Linked DNA regions of Homo sapiens: regions 1 and 2 are each linked to region 3. The links come from fine-mapping of genetic effects on gene expression. A gene starts in region 3. Each other region holds a variant in brackets. All regions are shown on one strand. Distances are from middle to middle.

The links. PIP is the estimated chance that this variant, and not a neighbour inherited with it, causes the effect.
Region 1: its variant is the best candidate, but not a certain one, in a credible set for the expression of PCCA in whole blood (TOPMed, PIP 0.72).
Region 2: its variant is the best candidate, but not a certain one, in a credible set for the expression of PCCA in whole blood (TOPMed, PIP 0.54).

The regions. Positions count from the first base shown.
Region 1 is chr13:100,379,882-100,384,123 of GRCh38, reverse strand. The region is part of intron 19 of PCCA (propionyl-CoA carboxylase subunit alpha); the gene reads right to left. Among named protein-coding and RNA genes, the nearest start is that of PCCA-AS1, 99 kb to the left of the region's middle. The variant C/T (reference allele first, on the strand shown) is at 2,457.
Region 2 is chr13:100,116,441-100,120,682 of GRCh38, reverse strand. All of the region lies in intron 4 of PCCA (propionyl-CoA carboxylase subunit alpha), which reads right to left. Among named protein-coding and RNA genes, the nearest start is that of PCCA, 29 kb to the right of the region's middle. The variant G/T (reference allele first, on the strand shown) is at 2,038.
Region 3 is chr13:100,086,982-100,091,223 of GRCh38, reverse strand. PCCA (propionyl-CoA carboxylase subunit alpha) reads right to left here and starts at 2,131. Exons shown (of 24, transcript NM_000282.4): 1 at 1,999-2,131. The coding sequence starts at 2,103. It overlaps PCCA-DT (PCCA divergent transcript), which reads left to right and starts at 2,281. Exons shown (of 2, transcript NR_132422.1): 1 at 2,281-2,591. RefSeq lists a silencer at 1,802-1,981 and enhancers at 2,262-2,521, 2,552-2,601.

The DNA of each region.
Region 1 (4,242 bases), 290 kb before region 3:
AACTTGGGAGGTGGAAGTTGCAGTGAGCCAAGATTGTGCCTCTGCACTCCTGCCTGGGCAACAGAGTGAGCTCTGTCTCAAAAAAAAAAAAAAAAATCAAACTTTCAAAGTGCTCTTTAAATATTAAAATAAACTATGGTGGAATGTTTTCTTAGTCAAGAAATCCAGAACAAAACATATGGTGGTAGAACAAAGGAAAAAGGGTGAGTTATAGCAGAGAAGGAAAACGTCAAACAATGCGTATATAATTATTTCTTATTATGCATCCATATGTAGTTATTATTTTCTATTCTTAGTTCATCACCATATTCTTTCTTTGAGGAGAAAAATATAGGGTGGTAATTTCAATTATATGAATACTACAAAACAATTCCCTCCTTCCACCTCAAGCATCTAAGATGAAACAATTTTGCATCAACCAAAACAAACATTATAAAGAAAACAAAATGTAGCACAAACTCTCTTGTACACAAAAGCTTACCTATCTCAAATCTTTATTTTTTTTTTTCGACACGGGGTCCAGGATTTCACTCTCACCCAGGCTAGAGTGCAGTGGTGCAATCATGGCTCACTGCAGCCTCAATCTCCCAGGCTCAAAGCATCTTCCCCCTTGGGCCTCCTGAGTAGCTGAGGCTACAGGCGTGTATCACCATGACCGGCTAATCATATAAAATTTTTTTTGTTGCCAGGGCTGGTCTAGACCTCCTGGGCTCAAGTGATCCTCCCGCCTTAGCCTCTCAATGTGCTGGGATTACAGGCGTGAGCCACGCACCCAGTCTCAAATCTTATATTGCTCTCAAAAAATATTGCTTGGATAAAACTTGAAATCACAGGCTGGGCACGGTGGCTCATGCCTGTAATCCCAGCACTTTGAGAGGCCAAGGTGGGCAGATGGCTTGAACCCAGGAGTTCAAGACCAGCCTAGGCAACATGGCGAAAACCCTGTCACTACAAAAAATATAAAAATTAGCCAGACATGGTAGCATGCCCCTGTAGTCTCAGCTACTTGGGGGACTGAGGTGCTCTCCCCCATGCTACCACATTCTAATGTTTTTCCTCATTTATTTATACAATAATTTTGAGGCAAGTTCTGGCTTATATATACTAAAAAATATGTTCTAAGCTGTGACTCATCAGTCATCTCCCCCAAGAGGAACTTCTTTCATCTTCCCCCAGATCCTTCCCTTCCCCCAAGCAGTTGAGTGCCTTTCTTTCTTTCTCATAGATTTAACTGGTTGATGACACCTCTATTAATGCATTTATTACATTATTTTAATTACTTCCAACTCTGCCTTCCCTTATAAGTACAGATTGTTTACATGGATATCTCCAAGCCCAACTGCCTTTAATTTATTTTTTCCCTGACAAAATATTATATGTTGAATTAGCGATTTTTCATTGCTTGCTTGGAATATGTTCTAGAAGTAAAAATAGTAGACCAAAGAATATGAATGTTTCTAAAGGTCTCTGATAAATGTTATCATATATAACCATTTAATTCATCTTTAAATTACTGACATGTAGGCCAACAACTATTGTTTGATATTGATACAATGATAGAGACAGGAGGCAGAGAAATTCTAGGCAGACAGGTGTGGGTCCCTGGTGAAGTTCCACCCTCAAGCTGAAAAGCCTGAGACCGTGGCCCAAAGTGAGAACTTCTCTCCCTGTTTTCCAGCTCAAATGTTGCCTTTTCCTAAACTACCCATGGCCCCACCCCACCTCATCCTGTGCCTATAAAGACCCCAGACTCAATCAGCAGAGAGGAGAAGCAGCTGAATGTTGGAGAGAAGGGACTTGACTTCAGAGGGACAGCTTGATGGAGTAACCGGAGAAAATCCAGCCGGACTTCAGGGGAAGATCACCTACCCCTCCTCTGTCCCCTTTTCAGCTCCCCTCTCTTCCCACTGAGAGCCACTTTCATCGGCAATAAAATCATTCCTGCATTTACCATCCTTCAATTAGTTCGTGTGACCTCATTTTTCCTGGACACCAGACAAGAGTTCAGGAGCCATGTGTGTGGATACAAAAGGTTGTTACGCTGGCCCTTTGCCCTCGCTGGTGGAGGGCAGCAGCAGGCCAACTGAGCTGTTAACACTTAAGCCGCCTGTGGAGAGCAGAGCTAAAAGAGCACTGTAACATGCCCTCTGGGGCTTTGGGAGTCACAGGCACCCCTCCTGGATGCTGCCATGGGGCCTGCACAGAGTTCGCTCCTGCTGGCGCCCAAAAGCACTTGCTCTGGTTCCTGCACCCACTCACCTGTGCACTCCCTCCTACGAGGTGTGGAAGGCAACAGGTGCAAATGAGTGGAGTTTGATCCCACTGGCGCCAAAACGGCTGGTCAGTTCCAGTGCTCCTGCACTACAGTTCCCGCCTCCTTCGCTCGTGTGCTCCCTCCCACAAGGAGTTGAGAGCTATAGGCTGATTAAAGGAGGCACCCCGTGGCAAAGCGGTCC[C/T]GCAAAGGGGTCAGGGAAATAACTTGCTTCAATATTATTTGAAAGGTAAGATATATTCACCATAGTAATAAAGAAATACATAAATACTTATATAAATATTCAAGATTAAATACTCCTGATACAACAGAGCCAAGGTTCTGAATAACCCAGATATTTAACCATTTGAGGAAATGCCATCCTGTTTTCCAAAGCAGCTGCACCCTTTTACGTTCCCACCAATAGCATTTGAAGGTTTCAATTTCTCCACCTCTTTGCCAACACTTTTTTTTTTTTTTTTTTGAGACGGAGTCTCGCTCTATCGCCCAGGCTGGAGTGCAGTGTGGCGATCTCGGCTCACTGCAAGCTCCACCTCCCGGGTTCATGCCATTCTCCTGCCTCAGCCTCCCAAGGAGCTGGGACTACAGGCGCCCATCACCATGCCCCAGCTAATTTTGTTTTTGTATTTTTAGTAGAGACGGGGTTTCACTGTGTTAGCCAAGACAGTCTCCATCTCCTGACCTCGTGATCCACCTGCCTCAGCCTCCCAAAGTGCTGGGATTACAGGCGTGAGCCACCGCACCTGGCCTACCAACACTTGTTATTACCTGACTTTTTAAAGTAGAGCTATGTAGTGGGTACAAAGGACAATCTCACTGTGGTTTTGATTTGCATCTGGATCCCTCCATGCCTTATGATGCAGAACATCTCTATATGTGCTTACCGGCAATTGCATATATTCTTTGGAGAAACGTCTATTCAGATCTTTTGCCTATTTTTAGAGTGGGCTGTTTTTTATTGTTAAGTTGTAAGTGTTCTTTATGTATTTTAAACACAAGTGCTTTACTGAAAATTTCATTTGCAAATATTTTTTCCCATTCTCTGGTTTGTCTTCAATTTCCTGTTAGTGTCCTTTGAAGCAAACATTTTAATCTTGATGTTGAACAATTCATCTATTTTTAAAGATGTTTTGCCTCTTATATTTAGGTCTTCAATCCATTTTGGATTAATTTTTGTATACTAATCAATATGAGGTAGGGTTTCTACTTCATTCCTTTACATGTGAACCCAGGTGTTTCGACACCATTTGTTGAAGAGATTATTCTTTTTACCATTGAATTATTTTGGCACCTTTGTCAAAGATCAATTGACCATATATTTTTGGGCTTATTTCTGGATTCTCAATTCTATTCTGTTGATTTATATGACAATCATTTTGCAAGTACTACACTGTATTTGATTACAAGGCTGTTTGTAGTAACTTCTGAAAGATGGAAATATGATTTATCCAATTCTGGATTTTTGTGGGTTTGTTTGTTTGGTTGGTTTTGAGACAGAGTTTTGCTCTGTATCCCAGGCTGGAGTGCAGTGGTGTGATCAGAGCTCACTGCAACCTCCACCTCCTGGGCTTAAGCTATCCTCCAACCCCAGCCTTCTAGGTAGCTGGGACTAGAGGCACATGCTACCACCATCAGCTAAAAAAAACTTTTTTGTAGAGATGGGGGCCTCACTATATTTCTCAGGCTGGTCTCGAACTCTTGGGCTCAAGTCATCCTCCTGCCTTGGCCTCCCAAAGTGCTGGGATTACAGGTCTGAGCCAATGTGACTGGCGTGTTTTTTTGTTTTTTCGTGTGTGTCTGTGTGTGTGTGTGTGTGTGTTTAGATTACTTTGGCTATTCTGGGTCCCTTAAGTTTCCATATTTTCCAAATTTTAGGATCAGCTTGTCAATTTCTGATAAAAATACAGCTTGGACTTCGGCAGGAATTGTGTTGCATCTTTAGACTAATTTGGGAATTACATGATTTGGGT
Region 2 (4,242 bases), 29 kb before region 3:
GACCAATTCCCATTGGAGTATTTTATACTGCTTCCCTATAGCCTCATCCCCTGGATTCAGGCACATTAATCTCATCATTATAAATGAATTGTTTTCCTAGGGAAAGCCTGACTTTAAGACTGCTCTAGATCAGTCTTTATTTCTCAAAGAAATTAAGGGAATTTCCTCAACAAAGAATAGGATGTCATATTGTTTTAAGACAAACCAACAATAAGCCAACTAAATAACCTGCAAATCCTCCTTAGAAACATCTAAAGACCTAGATTAAATATAACAAACATCCTTCAAATGAAGAGCTTGGCTCACAAAAAAACTACAAGGGATGAAAAAGAAAAAGGAAGCAGGGCACAACGGCATGTGCATGTAGTCCCAGCTACTCAGGAGGCTGAAGCAGGACAATCACTTGAGCCCAGGAGTTCATGGCTGTAGTTTGCTATGATCACACCACTGCACTCCAGCCTGGGCAACAGAGTAAGGCTCTGTCTCAAAAAAAAAAAAAAAAAAAGTAATCTGAAAATCTGGCTGGGCATGGTGGCTCAAACCTGTAATCCCAGCACTTTGGGAGGCTGAGGCGGGTGGATCACTTGAGGTCAGGAGTTCGAGACCAGCCTGGCCAACATGGTGAAACCCTGTCTCTACTGAAAATTCAGTAGTTTGGTGATGCATGCCTGTAAGCCCAGCTACTCGGGAGGCTGAGGCAGGAGAATCGCTTGAACCCAGGAGATGGAGGTTGCAGTGAGCTGAGATTGCGCCATTGCATTCCAGCCTGGACAACAAGAGCAAAACTCCGGCTCAAATAAATAAATAAATAAATAATATAAAAATGAAAATCAGTCTGCATCCACAAGAGCCAGTCTTGGAGAGTGAAGGTGGGAATCTCAATAATCTAGAAGATTGGGTTTTAACGATCAGAGAAAGGAAACAGATCCCGTGTGAGTTGGAGGTTTGAAGGAAACCCTTCTGTCTAAAGCCAGGAGGCTCAAAGATTACATTCTCAGTGAAAGGTTGTGGGGGAGGAATCAACCTACGAAATAGAGAGGATAAACCCTATGCTCGTATCTCTGTGGTTCAAAGTAAACGAAAATGTCTCTAGATATTAGAAACCATGAGCCTATTCAACAGGTGTGTATCTGTGTGTGTGCAATCTCATTTTGTTCTTCCCATTATCTTCAAAATTTGACAATCTTTATGCCAAAAATTTAATATAAAAATTAGTCCCAGATGAGTGATACCCTGGAGGGTGTGATGGAAACAAATATACCACCTATCCTACCTGGCCAAATCCATAACCCAAACCATCTTGAAATTCAACAACAAAAGCACCAAACATAGAATCACACACCAAAATTTAAACATGCGAGGAAACAATATGTTATGAGGAAGAGTCAGGAATAGAAATAAACACCCACAAACTTGAAATAATACAATAATATGATAGATTCTTTAAATTAAATATGCTAAAAATAAATATACTAAAGGCCTCAAATACATAAGAAAAAAGATAATACATAAAAACAGGCAGATTCAAAAAGGAGCAGAAAATCAACAGCTTACTCCACAGACAGCAAACAAGACAAATGTAACCAAAGTAATCAGGCTCAGGCAATTTTCATTATCGATGCAAAAACATTAGATGAGAGGTGGTTGAGGGACAAAATATTCACAAGGATTCAAAAACTCACCCCAAAAATTATTTAATAAAAAAAAAGAAAATGTACCATTATAATGGGAAGACCTGATGAAACCAAATGATCATACTTAGCATAACAACAGAACAATTCAACATTAAGAACCTCTTGTTATGATATTACTATTAAAAAAAATAACATTACTGGCTGGGGTACGGTGGCTCACGCCTGTAATCCTAGCACTTTGGGAGGCCAAGGCAAGAGGATCTCTTGAGCCCAGGAGTTCAAGACCAGCCTGGGAAAGATGGTGAAACCCCATCTTTACAAAAAATACAAAAATCAGCCAGGCGTGGTGGCATGCACCTGTAGTCACAACTACTTGGGAAACTAAGGTGGGAGGATCGCTTGT[G/T]CCCAGGAAGTCAGGCTGCAGTGAGTTATAATCTCACCACTGCACTCCAGCCCGGGCAACTGAGAGAGACTCTGTCACAAAAAAAAGAAAAAAAGAAAGAACATCACTTATGAAGTAGTCTTGTCAAATATTTAATCTGAATCTATTCATGAGAAAATAGATTCCATACAAAGCCAAAATATCTAAAAGCCAACATAATAAAAATCAAACAAAAAAAGAGGGAGAATAGGGGCACTATTTTAGATTAAGAGACTAAAGAGGTATAATAAACAAATGTAACTCATGAACCTTGATTGAACTGTGGATCAAAGAAAAATATTAAAAAGGACAACTGGGGTCAACTGGAAAAACCTGAATGTGGTAGGCATATTACATGATATTATAGAATAATGAGTTATTTTCTTAGGTTTCATAAGGTATTATAGATATGTAGAAAACCATACTTATTACTGCGAGATGAATAGTATTTACGGGTAAAATGCCACAATGTCTGTAACTTATTTTCTTTTTTTTTTTTTTTCTTTTTTTTTGAGATGGAGTCTTGCTCTGTCGCCCAGGCTGGACTGCAGTGGCACGATCTCAGCTCACTGCAAGCTCCGCCTCCCGGGTTCACACCATTCTCCTGCCTCAGCCTCCCAAGTAGCTGGGACCACAGGAGCCTGCCACCACGCCTGGCTAATTTTTTGTATTTTTAGTAGAGACAGGGTTTCACCGTGTTAGCCAGGATGGTCTCGATCTCCTGCCCTCATGATCTGCCCGCCTCAGCCTCCCAAAGTGCTGGGATTACAGGCGTGAGCCACTACGCCCGGCCTCTTTTTTTTTCTTTTTCCTGTCCAGGGGATTCTTTTTAATGCTGCTTTTTTTACATATATATATATACTTTAAGTTCTAGGGTACATGTGCACAACGTGCAGGTTTGTTACATAGGTATACATGTCTCATGTTGTTTTGCTGCACCCATCAACTCGTCATTTACATTAGGTATTTCCCCTAATGCTATCCCTCCCCCATCCCCCAACCCCACAACAGGACACAGTGTGTGATGTTCCCTACCCTGTGTCCAAGTGTCTTCATTGTTCAATTCCCACCTATGAGTGAGAACGTGCAGTGTTTTGTTTTCTGTCCCTGTGATAGTTTGCTGAGAATGATGGTTTCCAGCTTCATCCATGTCCTGTAACTTATTTTCAAATTGTTTAGCCAAAAAAAAAAAAAATGCACACACACAATGTACATATGGATACAAATATAAAGCAAACAAGCCAAAATGTTAACAATTGCTGAATCTAGGTGAAGGGTATACAGATACCGTTATACTGGTATATAACAGTAAACTGATACCAATATACTGGTACTACTTTTCTAATTTTTTTCATTATGTTTGAAGAAATGCTTCAGAAAAAAATATAAATGAATGACCAATAACACAAAAAAGTACTCAACATCAGTATTCATCAGGAAAATCTAAAATTAAAAACACAATGACATACTGCTTCACAACCACTTAAAAATAAAACACAAAATCAAATGGACTGAAAACACCAAGTGTTGGCAAGGACACAAAAGCACCCTGACCTAGACATTTCTGGAGGGAGTAAAATATGATACAACCATGAAGGAGAACTATTTAGCAGCTTCTTATAAATTTAAACATGCATGTATTTATTCTAGGCATCAGCAAAATACTGTCTACCCACTGGCCAAATCTGATCCAAGGGCTGTTTTTGCACAGCTCTCAAGCTAACAATAGTTTTCACATTTTTAAAGTGTTGTTAAAACAAAACAAAACAAAACAAAAAGAAGCATATGTAACAGCGACCACAGGGGCCTGCAAAATCTAAAATATATTTGCTATCCAGACAAAAATGTATTTACTTTCAAACAAAAAAAGGTTGCCAACTCCTTATCTACCCTAAGACCCAGCTACTCCACTCCTAGATATTTACCCAAAAAAAATCAAAATTATGTTCACAAAAAGACATGCAAAAGTTATACTTATAAAAATCTTGTTCATGGTATCTAAAAATTGGGGAAGGGGGGTAATTGGCCAGCTCATCCTAAAATTCACATGGAAGAGCGAAGGACCAAGAATACTGAAGACAATTTTGAAGAACATGTTGGAGGGAAGGGACCAACAGAGGTAAACTGCATAATCATCTCTAAAAGCCAACATTTTTCTATCAAACATTAATTGTTTGCAAGTTAGCT
Region 3 (4,242 bases):
GTCATCCCTCCCACCTCCAACATCAATGTCTTCCCACTGCTCTAAGACAAACACCAAACCTCATAATGTGATCTATAAGAGCCAGATGGTCTGACTCCTGCCAGCTTCCCCAACACCATCTACTCTCTGCATCAGAGCCTCTGTAGGCTTTTTTCAGTTCTTCTAACCTGTCATTCCCTCTGGCCACAGGACCTTTGCATACACTGCTCTCTCACCTATAACATTCATCTCTGTTTGTTAGAAAAGGTCACTTCATCCTTCAAAACTTGTCTCAATTTTCAGTTCCAAAGGAAAACACTCCCTTACCGTAGATAGCATAGTATGATTAAGAGCACAGGTTCTGGAGTTCTAAATCCTGTTTGCCACTTATTGGCACTATAGCTTCGAGCAAGTCACATTAACACTCAGTGCCTCACTTTCATCTTCTGTAAATGGGGGACATACGACTGTTGTGAGATTGAATAAATTAGTTCAAGCAAAGCAACAGAACAGTATCTAGAACACAGAATTCAAAATCTTGGCTTGGTCAAATCCCTCTATTTTATTTTCTTATAGCACCCGGGCATCTCCCCTAATACCATTTTACACTTGTTACAGTCTCCCTACTAGAGTAAAATTTCTAAGAAAGCAGAAACCATATTCATTCCCCAGAAGTGGAAGACAGGAGATATTCAGTAAATATTTGTTGAAAAAAATAGCTACAAGGACGAAGCTGACGCCCAAGGAAGAGACCTGTCCAATATACAAAGCCTCATGCGCCTGACCCCAAAGCCCACACTTTACACCATACTAACTTGCCTCCTATGTAAATGCATAAGTCTTACAGCTGCAATTGAAGTGGCCAACACAGATGAACAGAATGATAAAGATTAAAGAACACTAAACTGTATGGGAACACAGAAAACAGTGAAAGTCCGCACGCTGAATTGGACACAAAACAAACATAGGTGCCACTCACTTCCATGTCGATAAGCTCCAGCTCTCATACTGCCCACCTGGGGCTCGGTTCCCTCCTCTTTAAAGAGTAGGATGGGGCAGGTCGTCTCTAAAGTGTCTTCAACGTCTAAAATTAAATGACTATAAATCAAGTTATGTGGCAATGTTTTAATAATTATTTTTTAAAAGGAAGTTTAACAAGCACACTGAACCAGCTGACAGATGGTTTTCAGGGGACCTTCATTTTAAAGAATGTGTTCAAGTGCCTCAACAAACCTTATAAAGTAGGTTAGGTGGTCTGTGCCCCAGAATTAACGACAGACTCGACATTGACTGGAGACAGAGCTCAGAAGCACACACAAGCACTCCAACCTGTTTGTCAATCTGCCATCATGACAGCCTAGGTATACAGAACAGTCATGAAATGTGTTTAGAACAGTGCCAAAATCAGGCTCACCACTATACCGAAAAGGAAAGTAAGTTCACGGGATGCATTTGGTACACAGTAGACTGGGGTGTCATACAATTAAAACAGGCTTTCAAATGAAACGTAAAATCTATTGGCAGTCCTGACATGGTATAATACTTTAAAAGATAAGACAAACTCACAACCCTAACACTACTTAAGCAACAGTTCACAGTGTCCCTTCAAAAATGCTGGAAAGAGGCAACAGAACACGGAAACTATAAGGACACCTAAAAAGACACCCTGGAAAGCTTAAGACAAAGCCAATGCCGCGGGGCCCTGGAAGCAGACCTCGAGCAATATGCCTGCCCAAAGCCATCAGCCGCCTCGGAGGGCGTGCGGGCACCCAACTGCCTCTGCCCTAGGCCTCTCTGCTCCGCAGGATCCCCGCGAGGAACAGCTGCAACGAGGGATGCCTCCTGAGCCCGCTGCCACGCGAACTCCGGGAGGGAGGAAAGCAAGCGGTGTAGCTGATGCGGAACCGGGGCGCGGGGGCAGCCGGACCCAGCCAGCGCTCTCCCGGCGCCAGCCGCCCAGAGGCGGCACGGCTAGAAGCCCAGTGAAGCCCGGACCCGCGAGGCCCCGTTGCTCCTCACCTTCAGGGTCCGCAGCGCCGCGCTCAGCATCAGCTGCTGCGGCGGCCACCGCCCACGCCGTCCGGCAGCGACCAGCGGTGCTGTCCCGACCCAGAACCCCGCCATTGTTGTCCCCGCAGACCGCCCCTCTGCTGACCTCTCACACAGCCGGAGGGGGTGGAGAAGGGGAGCGCAGGAGCTCCGGCAAATCACGAGCCAGAAACCCGATGCCCCGCCCCCTAACTTGCGGAAAGGGGAGGGTGAGTGGTCGGCCAGATCCGCCGGATCCGGGATCCGGGAGTCGCGCTAGGACCTGGAGGGCTAGTCGGCGGGCTGCGCGTCCGGCCGCTAGCTGAGCTGGAGGCCACCGGCCAGAGCCGACCCCAGGAGTGAGAGAGACAGGGGCGTGCGTGAGTTCCGGCGGCCTGCACCGGGCAAACCCCGTACCTTCCCAGCATCGGCTCAGCAACCCACGTGCATCCAGGCCGGTCAATGTCATTGAGTCACCTCCGCGCCTTGGCCACCCTGGAGTCCCGAGAATCCGAAGTTCCAGACAAATGCCCAAACTACATTCCTGCATGTTCGAAAGCGTAAATTGCAAAGCACAAATCCAGGTAAGGTTTTTAACGACTGTAATAACACATAAAAAGTTCTAGGTCTGGAAATCAGAGATCCGAGCTCAAGTCCTACCTCTGGCACTTAATATGTGTGTGTGAAAGAAATTAGCCACAACTAGAGTCAGTCTTTGTTGCTCGCAAGCAGAAACCCTTGTTAGTACAACTACTGGCCAGGCGCAGTGGCTCACGCCTGTAATCCCAGCACTCTGGGAGGCCGAGGCGGGAGGATAACCTGAGGTCAGGAGTTGGAGACCAGCCTGGACAACATGCCGAAACCCCGTCTCTACTAAAAAATACAAAAATTAGCTGGGCGTGGTGGCGCACTCCTGTAATCCCAGTTACTCGGGAGGAGGCTGAGGCAGGAGAATTGCTTGAACCCTGGAGGTGGAGGTTGCAGTGAGCCGGATCATGCCACTACACTCCAGCCTGGGTGACAGAGCAAACTCCGTTTCGAAAAATAAAATAAAAATTAGTACAACTATTAAGGGCCGGGCCGTGTGCTAGAGCCTCAGATTCCCTCTTACTTGAGAGTTTACAAGAACCTTAATGGAGTATATATTATTTCCATTTGGAGAAACTGAAGCTGTAGCAGGGTAAAGTCACTCAGCGAGTAAAAGGTCAAACTAGGGTTTGAACCCAAATCTGGCTGCCTTGAGGGACTGGGCTCATGTTTTGCTATATTATGGAAATTTTAAAATATATACAAAAGAGATAAAATTGTACTATGATCACCCAGATACCCATTACACCGCGTCAATGAATCAACATTTTGTCAATCTTGTTTCATCTATTCCCCTTTTTATTTTGTGCAGGAATATTTTAAAGCAAATCTAAGACATCAGACCACCTCACCTATAAACACATCAGTATTGGGGGTTCTCCTCTTAACTACTTTGCATCTCCTGCAGAGTCACCTTGAGAGAGTTACAAAGCTAGGAATGGCCTAGAGTACACTACAGCATGGTAAATGCCCAAAGAGAGAGAAATAAAATGGGGATATCAGAAAGGTGACATTTAATGGAATTTTAGAATGTAAGTAGGGACTTTTGTGACAAAATGAAAAGGATTATCAATTTTACAGGACTTCTCACTTATGTACCTCAGTCTTCATTCATTTTCTACCTGGGAAACTTGCTTTTCTTTTTTCTTTTGTTTTTTGTCTTTTCCCCATGTTTTACCCTTTGGATTAGTTTTCCTTAGGCCCTGTTTGTTTTTCTTATAGGAGTTCTTTTTATGAAAGGCACTTGTAGCAGAAACTGCTTCTCATGCTATCCATTCTCCATGCATTACTTTAGTAAGAGTGCCCCTGAGATCTAGCTGGGTACATGGCCACCCAGCGAAAGGCTGCAATAGCTAGCCTCCCTTACAACGAGGTGTAGCGCCATGACTAAGGTCTGGAATGTAAGGACTGTGCCCTCCATGCCCTCTTCTTTCTTACCTAAACAAAGATCTACATTTCCCAACTCCCACTGCAGCAAGGGTGCTTACCAAGATTTGGTTACTAAGTTTTGGCCAATGGGACATAAGCACAAGTGACATAGACAACTTTTGGGTTATACCTTTAAAGGGAAAGGCTTGCTTTCCACTTGCCCTTCTCCTCTTTCCAGTTTGCCAGAATGTGGACACTACAGTGGAGGTAAAGTTGTCA